Linked DNA regions of Homo sapiens. The protein of the gene in region 3 interacts with the protein of the main gene of each other region in a pairwise test. Each region holds a gene or a part of one and is shown on either strand. Other genes may lie near its edges. The genes, in order: MAL2, TNMD and MYG1.

The links.
Region 1: the proteins of MYG1 (region 3) and MAL2 interact in binary tests that used the Homo sapiens proteins (3 or more experiments, as listed by UniProt).
Region 2: the proteins of MYG1 (region 3) and TNMD interact in binary tests that used the Homo sapiens proteins (3 or more experiments, as listed by UniProt).

What each region holds. Positions count from the first base shown.
Region 1 is NC_000008.11:119,211,291-119,214,951, forward strand, and holds part of MAL2 (protein MAL2), read left to right. Parts: intron 1-3,332; exon of another isoform or gene 3,333-3,661. UniProt on the Homo sapiens protein: Member of the machinery of polarized transport. Required for the indirect transcytotic route at the step of the egress of the transcytosing cargo from perinuclear endosomes in order for it to travel to the apical surface via a raft-dependent pathway.
Region 2 is NC_000023.11:100,597,506-100,600,391, reverse strand, and holds the end of TNMD (tenomodulin), read right to left. Parts: coding exon 2,735-2,886; intron 1,377-2,734; coding exon 1,210-1,376; intron 885-1,209; coding exon 675-884; 3' UTR 507-674; downstream 1-506. UniProt on the Homo sapiens protein: May be an angiogenesis inhibitor.
Region 3 is NC_000012.12:53,305,069-53,307,721, reverse strand, and holds the end of MYG1 (MYG1 exonuclease precursor), read right to left. Parts: intron 1,815-2,653; coding exon 1,662-1,814; intron 1,525-1,661; coding exon 1,402-1,524; intron 1,043-1,401; coding exon 861-1,042; intron 757-860; coding exon 573-756; 3' UTR 545-572; downstream 1-544. Other genes in the region: AAAS (aladin), read left to right, coding at 9-233. UniProt on the Homo sapiens protein: 3'-5' RNA exonuclease which cleaves in situ on specific transcripts in both nucleus and mitochondrion. Involved in regulating spatially segregated organellar RNA processing, acts as a coordinator of nucleo-mitochondrial crosstalk.

The DNA.
Region 1 (3,661 bases), on a different chromosome or scaffold from region 3:
ATTTTAACCTCTGCCGGTGTTTCTGGATATCCTCAAACTCCATTTTAATTTTGACCTTCTGTTCAAATTCGTTTGTCTTTAAGAGTTCTTCATTTCTGTCCCATTGCCTTCTGAAACTTAACATGTGAAAATTGTACCTGACAAAGGAGGACTGGGCTATCAACAGTTGACTACGCTATTGACACCATGCTCTTGGAGTTTGGTTCTCACACTAACCATTTAACTTGGCTCAAAGTATTCATTCCCAATTCCCCTTAACGTATTCTATTCACAGCCTGTCAGATATAAGCCATTTGTTGGGAGATATTACAAAATATATAAATAGTGCCAGCCTACGAGCACCAGGAAAAGCATTATAGCACTGGCTTCTTAAGTGGAGAATATTACAATCTCACGTGCATAGTGATTTTTTTTTTTTTTTTTTTGAGATAGGGAGATAAGGTGTGTTCCACTCCTGGATACCTAATTGTCAGCTCTTTGGTTTTGGGCTTAGCAATACTTACCAATGTATGCTTGCCACAGAGTTTAATACTAAGTTAATATTGCAAAGCTAAGCCTTTTAGCTTAGAATGGAAGCCATCACCTTCAAAATTCGCACTTTCAAAATCTCACAGTTTTTTGAGTGAATATTTTATAAAAATCACTCATCGGGTATTTACTGAATACCTACTATGTGCAAGGCACTCCTCTGGGAACAAAGATGTTTAAACCCTTCCTCACCAGAAAGACCTATAACCTAGTTGAGAGTATAGTCACAAAAGTAACTACCATTCAGGGAAGAAAGAATTAAGTATGGGAAGTGAACTGCAGCTAAAACATTTTCCAGGTGGGTCTATCTACTTTAAAAAATAACATGGGATCATCTGCACTATTGGGCTGAACAAGATATTTAGGATCCCTGCTCTCAATGAGCTTATCTTGTAAAATGCACAAGAAAAATTGAATTTTTAATAGTATTAATCACGAAAAAGAATACAGATAATCATTGAATTCATTGTGTTTTATTTTGCAGTTTTAGTGTTTAAGAAACTACTTATATTCCCCAAGTTATTCATTCACATTTATCTTTGTGGGAGATACTCTAGGATTCTTATTCACATGCTTCTAACTGCAGTGTTTTGGATGCCATAGTAATTTTCATTTACTCAGCTTATAATTAAGAACATACTATGCATCAAGCCTTCTTTTATGCCCTGAAAATAGAGTAACTAACATGGCTCCTGCCCTTAAAAGAAATTACTGTTTGGTGGAATATAAAGTCAAGAAAGAATTACCATGCTGTGTATGAAGTGCTAATATAGGTTTATAAAAAGTATTGTGGAACAGCAGGATAGAGTACATCTGACTTCTGGAGAGGTCAGAACAGGCAGCTTTAATGAGGTGGGGACATTTGAGGTTAGCCTTCAATAATGAGCCATGGTTCATTAGAAAATGGGAAAGAGAATTCCAGGTAGAAACAAGGACACGTACAAACACAGAGACAAGAAGGACAATGGCAAGAACGTTCTGTCAGTTGTGAGATTTTGGTGGGCCGTGGCAGAAAAAGGAAAAACAGCAGGTAGGACTCAGGTTCTGGTTTGCTGAGAAATGCTAGGCCAAGGCATTGGATTTATTGTCTGATGGAAAGCTGTGAAGGACAGAGAGAAACTTGATCCAGCTTGTGTCTTAGAAACCTTTGAGTGATGAAGTTTGGTTGTAAAACAAAGGGACTGAAGGCAGGAAGAGCAGTTAGGGGGCTTATTGCAATAGTTTAGATAAGGGATGAAAAGAACCTGAAATAGAACCAATGAAAGAAGGATGGAGAAGGAGAGAGAGAGGTTTGAGGTTTGGGAAGTCAATTAAGTATGTAAAGTTTGACTTGCCCCAAAGTGATACCTAGACTAAACTTAAATATAAGATGTAACTCAGAGGAATTATGCCAGAAAAACAAATGTTAATGAAAGGATGATTGTGAGGGAGGGACTTTAGGGGAGGCAGGTTCAGTCATGCAGATAAATCTATGAAAGGGACTTCAGGTTATTTTCAACTGAGAGCTTTGACTTTGGACTAGTAACATGTATATGTTCTGATGTATAGAGTTTATTGCCTGGAAAATGTTGACTGTGAAGGGACATTGCTTATTTGCAGTGTGCAAGAGGGAGCTGTCCATGGACATAGTTGTCCCCTAAATGGGTTTTAAAACTGTAGGTATTTTTTTTCCTTTGCCTCTGGATTAAAAATCTTCATCCACATTAAAAGAATCTTTAGGCCGGGTGCAGTGGCTCATGCCTGTAATCCTAGCACTTTGGGAGGCTGAAGCAGGTGGATCACCTGAGGTCAGGAGTTCAAGACCAGCCTGACCAACATGGTGAAACCCCCATCTCTACTAAAAATACAAAATTAGCCAGGTGTGGTGGCACATGACTGTAATCCCAGCTACTTGGGAGGCCGTGGCAGGAGAATTGCTTGAACCTGGGAGGCAGAGTTGCAGTGAGCCAAGATCGCACCATCACCCTCCAGCCTGGGAAATAAGAGCGAAACTACATCCCCAAAATAATAAATGAATAAATAAATAACCTTTAAAGTTTCATAAGGGAAAATAAACCAATGCCCCTGCCAGAGATTATTATCAACAATCATTTGCTCCGACTGGCAGTCCTTTAAAAAAAAATACGAAGAACTGAAATATGGAAAACTTTAAACCAAGTAGCTGAAAAGATTCACCTTGAGCTCCAAAGGAAAAAGTCATAGAGAAGAGATTTGTTTTGTAGAGCCTGATAGAAATGTTGTACGTGGTGGTAGGAGCTGTGGACATGGTGTATTTGCAGTGATATGGCTGAATAGAAATGACCCTGTAATGACAAAGGACAGGAACCAGGTTGGCATACCCAGTATCATGCACATGCAGTACTTAACAAATGCTACTTGTTTGTTCTATAGTACAAACTGAGCAGTATGTGAAAATAGTCTGGAGACATTGGCTGGAGTGGAGAAGGGCAGCTTGGGAGTAGATGCCCTCTTAAATCTTGCCCAACATGTAAACTGCCATAATTCTTCTCCAGGTTTCTGCACTTTAACTTGAATTTCCTAAGTGTTCTATTTTATATAAGAGTACCATATCCTTTTATAGACAACATATATAACAATCTCAACTTCTGTATAATAGCTATGAGAAGGAGGAAGGTAAAAAGAAAGGAAAGAGGCAGTGATTTATACGGGTCTGGCCAATATCAGGGCATTGGCACGCAGGAACAGCTTTAAACTAAAAGTGATAACTAGTTACCTGCAAACATGAAAAGGGAATTTTCAAAATCGAGAGGAATTATTATAAAGAAGAATAAAAAGAACCAGAACATATTTCTCCTCTGTAATATGAGCTTTCCATTTTAGGGTCGGTGTCAGCTATTTAAGCAGCTGAATTGGAGGTTTAGGTCACATGGGGAGGAAGAAAGTATAACTCTCTATAGCACTCTCAGACATATTTTTAAAGCCTTCAAATGTAAAGCTAAAAAGTAGAACTTCTTTTGCAATGAGTATTAACGTATTTTGGTCATAAGCCTCTTATGTGTATGTCATTTCTCATTACATCCCAGAATTTGTTCTGTTTTCCTAACTAACTAAATAAATAAACACCTTGCTGCCTTGCATCTCTAATGCAGGTCTATGCCAGGGCCAGTCCAGA
Region 2 (2,886 bases), on a different chromosome or scaffold from region 3:
ATTTTATCATCAGCTCCTTATTTCCACTGTCTTAATACAGCAGAGTAAAATATGATATTTAGGTATCATTATGCTTTGCCCTTTTCTACTTCCAAACCTGTTGTGTTGGATCCTCTCTGGAAAGGGAGTCTTATGACCTACAGTCAAACAAGGTAGGTCAGATAATTTCCTTATGGCCAGCTTTTACACAGAAAAGCAGAGGAAAAATCAGAGTGATATTTTTAGGTTTAAGGCTGGCTTTGGAAAAAAGGGGTTTTGATTTATATGACACGCCTTGAGGAAGAGGGATTCTAGCTTTTATGGCTAGCCTCGGGGGAGAATGGGACTGAGAGACTGGCAGGTAGGAGAAGGTCAGAGAAAAACTTTTGCTTCTGAGGCTTTCATTTTGGGGCATTGTTTTCTGAGCCTCAGCATAGTCATCTATGTTTGACGGGTCTGCTCCATTTCAGTTGCTGTGAATATTCTCAGCAAACACTTACCCAGTGTGTTCAGCAGCAATCAGGCTGTTGGTGATAATGTAGAAGTTTATTAGAACATGAAGAGAGGAATTACCTACAAGTAATTCTGGAGAGCTGGCTACCAGGGGCCAGATGCCTCATAGGCAGAAATTCATTGAATAGCATGCATTTATTATATGTTGCCAGCAGTTTAAGCATTTGAGCTCAAACCTCCTATTAGACCCTCCCCAGCATGCGGGCCACCCACCAGTTACAAGGCATGATGACACGACAGATGACTCGTCCTCCTTGGTAGCAGTATGGATATGGGTAGTAGCCTAGTAAAGGTTCACAGACGCGGCGGCAATAGCGGTTGCCTCGACGGCAGTAAATACAACAATAACCTCTCTCATCCAGCATGGGATCAAATTCTATTCCATTTTCAGTCTGAAAGAAGAAGAAGCCAGTGTTGGGGGTGGGAGAGGAAGGTTCACTAGCAAGAGTTCTCACCAAGCAGGGGAGAACTAGAAGACTGTATGAGTTGGGGGCTTGTGAGAAATTAAGCTCCTTAGCCTGATCATGGAGATATATCTACAGAGATCGAGATTGATTTTGAATGAGCCTCCTGGAGATTCCAAGTTTCTTAAACATTTTTTTTTTTTTGTTAAAGCCATGATCGTTCTCCTTCCAATGATTGTGATCTGAGGGGTAGTAAGTTTTGTGAGGGCTCTTTTTTCCTCCTCTATCAAGAGTTTACATAAACATAACTCACATAGTCATTTATTGGAAGTTCTTCCTCACTTGCTTGTCTGGCGTGACGGGTCTTCTCTACTTTCACTTGAGGGACCACCCACTGTTCATTTTGTTCAATCCCTTTTTTTTCGTTGGCAGGAAAGTGAAGATCTTCTCCCTCCTCCTCAAAGTCTTGTAACTCAGAAACTAAGATAATAAATGCAAAGTTGTGATGCAACTGCTTTGCAAATGTTCCTGAAAGAAGTGCTTGGGAGAATAGCAGCTGGGGATAGAGATTTTCATTGTGTCTTCTAACTGGCATCATTTAGGCATGGACCACTTTTCCAAGCTCCTTCAGCTGATATTTTAGAGTAGTTTCCAAAACAAGCCTGATCATTTCTACATACACAAACTTCTTTGCTTCTTTGGCATCAAACATTTACTGCTTTGACTTAATAGCACACTAAATTAAAAACTGAGGACAAGGGACTTCTGTATCTCCTACAATGATGATTTTACCCATGTAGATGCTCAATAAATATTTCTTGGTTGCCTGAATTGATTTGACATCCTCTGTCCTCCCACTTCCCTTATGTTTCTTGTCTTAAATTTTTTTTAAACTTTCTGTTTAGAAATAATCTTAGATTTATGGAAGAGTTGCAGAAATAGTACAGAGTTCACATATTCTTCACCCGGTTTCCCCTAATGTTACCTCACATAACCATGGTACAATGATCAAAAATCAGAAGTTAGAATTGGTACAATGTTATTAACTAAACTACAGACTTTATTCAGATTTCATTAGTATTTCTACTAATGTTTTTTTCTGTTCCAGCATCCAGTCCAGGATACCACACTGCATTTAGTCACCTTTTTAATATCTCTAAAGAGTACCCACAGATGCTTACATTGGTGAGAATAACCTCTCTTGGGTAATAGAGTAATCTATGCTGTGCAGAATGAGGGAGGCCAAATTCCATGTTAGCTAAACAGACTAAGACATCCAGGGGCCTTTACCTTCTCTATGGGCTGACTGGAAGTTGAGGGCTGGACTCTTCTACTCTGGACATCAAGCCCTCAACTATTTTTATAGTAATTCCTAAAACAGCAACAAAGAAATTTGTATTGCAGTGATTGTCCTATCTTCTAAGGAAAATGCCACCATTTGACATAGGGAATCCTTCTTGATAGCAGAGCATTGTTTTTGCCCTTCTCTCCTCTATTCTTGGGTTGGACCCACAGTGGTTTGAGCAATAGTCTGGCATACCGACTGCAATGAATATAGATGTGCAAAGAGAGACAGATTAGTTTTTTGCTATCACTAGTCACATTAGGGTGGTGTTACCTTTGCTGGGATATTTAAAAGCCTGTCAACATTAATTTATCTGATTTATAACTTGGCTGTGAAAAATTCCCTCCTCACTGGCAGTCAGCATATATAGACTCATCCAAGAAGATATAAACCGATCATTTGTTTTCCTAGAAATGTAGCCTCTAAATGCTGGGAACATTAACCTGTTACTGTCTTAGAAAATAGGAGGAGGATGAGGATAAGAATGTCATACCTGATATTAGAGTGGGATTGATCCAATACATGGTCACGTTATCACAAATCTCCAGAATTTTGGAATTTTTAAGAAAATCTCGGTTTTCAATAGGCTTTTCTGCTGGGACCCAAATCACTGACTGTTCAAAGAAAGTTGTGGTAATTTCTTCA
Region 3 (2,653 bases):
CTCTGCAGGGCTGGTCCACAGGCCGAATTGCCCACATCCCGCTGTACTTTGTCAATGCCCAGTTTCCACGTTTTAGCCCAGTGCTTGGGCGGGCCCAGGAACCCCCTGCTGGGGGTGGAGGCTCTATTCATGACCTGCCCCTCTTTACTGAGACATCCCCAACCTCTGCCCCTTGGGACCCTCTCCCAGGGCCACCACCTGTTCTGCCCCACTCCCCACATTCCCACCTCTAAGAATAAATAAGTTTTCCTTTTGTTTTCCACTCAGTTACCAGTCTGTCTTTTCCAGGGAGTTGCAGTGGGGTACAGTAGGGGAAAAAAGCATGGACTTTGGGTTAAGGCCCTGTTCTGTCACTTTTTAGCCACTTGTGAATTTGGTCACGTTATTTAATCCTAGAAACTATGGTTTCAAATGATTTGGGAAGCAAGGCTGAGAAGTTACTGTGAAGAAAATATATCTAGCACAGGGTCTTACACATAAATAGTTGTTTCACTTTTCACAAGTTTCTGGAATGGTGTAGGGCAAGAATAAGTCAAGGACTGGGTCAGTATGAGATGGAAGGTTTTATTAGACTAGGAGATTTGTGGGAGGTATGAGCGCTGGGCCAAGGTGGCACGGGCCATGCTCAAGGCACCCTCTCGGGTGTGGTGACCGCCAGTGAAGCCGCTTGCATGGACGAAGATGCAGCCAGGGATCCCACTGACCTGGTCCAGGGCCTCGTCCCGAAGACCCCGCCATGGCTCTGGCAGGGGCAGCCTGGGCAGAAAGAGGGAGTACAGCAGGGGTCAGAGTTGGCAGCCTTCTCTTAACAAGGCTGAGACAAGCCTGAAGGTCTGCAGAGTGGTTCCCTAGGGCCTCACCGGCTTTGGAATGAGTGGGGCTCCTTGGGCACACACTGTATTCGCCACTGTCCAGCCTGGTCAGTGTAGATAACAAAGAAGATGGCCACTGGAGGGGACAGCCCAGATTCCAGGTGGTAGAGATGCTCCTTCCAGGGACATGCACCTTTCGCCAGTTCCACAATCTCTCCACTTGGGTCCACCTGAAAGAGGGAGAGCATAGCTAGAAGGTTTAAGGTAGGCTGGGCATGGTGATCATGTTTGTAGTCACAACATTTTGGGAGGCTGAGGTGGGAGGATCAGTTGAGCCCAGGAATTTGAGACTAGCCTAGGCAACAAAGTAAGACCCTGTCTCTACAAAAAATACAAAAATTAGCTGGGTGAGGTGGTGTGTGCCTGTAGTCCCAGCTACTCAGGAGGCTGAGGTGGGAGGACTGCTTGAGCCTAAGAGGTTGAGGTTGTCTGCCACTGCACTCCAGGGTTTAGGGTAGAAGAAGCAGGAGTTCCTGTTGATTGGCAGTCAGTAATCCTCAAGCCATAATGCCTCCTCCAAGGCCTATACCTGGAATCGCTGGGCAAGGGCCTCTTCCACCAAGGCCCGGGCTGGCAGCCAGCTGTGTTGGTAGAAATCTAATCTCTGCAGAAACTCCTCTTGAACCAGATCCATTGCACGCTTGAACCCTGCCTGGGAATGATGAGAATTAGAACCATGATGCTGGCCCAAACTTGGAATTTGCTAGGGCTTAGGAGGAGCAAATGCTCCCATTTTCCCCCCACCCAAGGTTCTTACAGGTCTCCGGGTCTCCTCCCAGGCCACCTTACCTCAGTGTCTTGGTCGGGGTGGTTCCAGGTAGGATTAAGTCGAGCAACTCGTGCACTCAGGGTAGTGGTCAGTGCATATCGAGGCTCCCCCTCTGCCCACTGGGAGATCCCATTGTCCACAGCATCCACCTCCTCCACAAAGTTCTCATACATCTAAGGCAGCAGCAGGGGAAACCTTCTTGAGGCTACCTGCTACTTATGTGAAATCTTACATGATTCAAAGTATGTTCATACACACTCTTTCAGCCCTGTGAGGATCTCTCAACATTAACTGGATGAGAAAAGGGAGAATTGGCAAGTTCAGCAGCTCGCTGAAGCTCAGACAGCTCGTTGTGCTGTGACTGGAATTCAGATCACCTGATTTCTAATCCATGCTCATTCTGCTGCACAAAGCCCAAACCAAAGCCAACACGTGTAGGGAGGGGACTGCTAACTTTTGAACAAGGAAGGTCTCTAGGTGCTAGAGGCTCTCTGTGGGAGTGGGTCCCTGTGGCTGAAGGCTGGTAAATCTCCAGGTGGGGTGAGTAGGTATTCAGTGACACGGTTAATGAGGTGCAGGAGCGGCTCTGGTTGAGAACACAAGTCAAGTGGGAGAAAATGAGTGTGAGACTAGACACCAAAAGCTGGTTGCTGGGTTAGGGTTCCAGGGAAGCCCATAATGTGCCTCATGACATCAGCAGTTGTCTCCTGGGTCTGAATAAATGGTAGGATAATGCCTCAAGAGTCTCGGGGCAGAAACTTTATGCAAAATTACCCTACAAAATAGGCCTCCATAACAGTACACCTGTGGTATGTAGAAAAGTGCTACTCTCAGAGCACTGAGAAAGTAACTCCTATGCCCAGCTCTTCTTGGTTTGGATCCCAACCTGATGCTCAGTTAAAACATGGGTTTAGGCCGGGCGCGGTGGCTCACGCCTGTAATCCCAGCACTTTGGGAGGCCGAGGCGGGCGGATCACGAGGTCAGGAGATCGAGACCATCCCGGCTAAAACG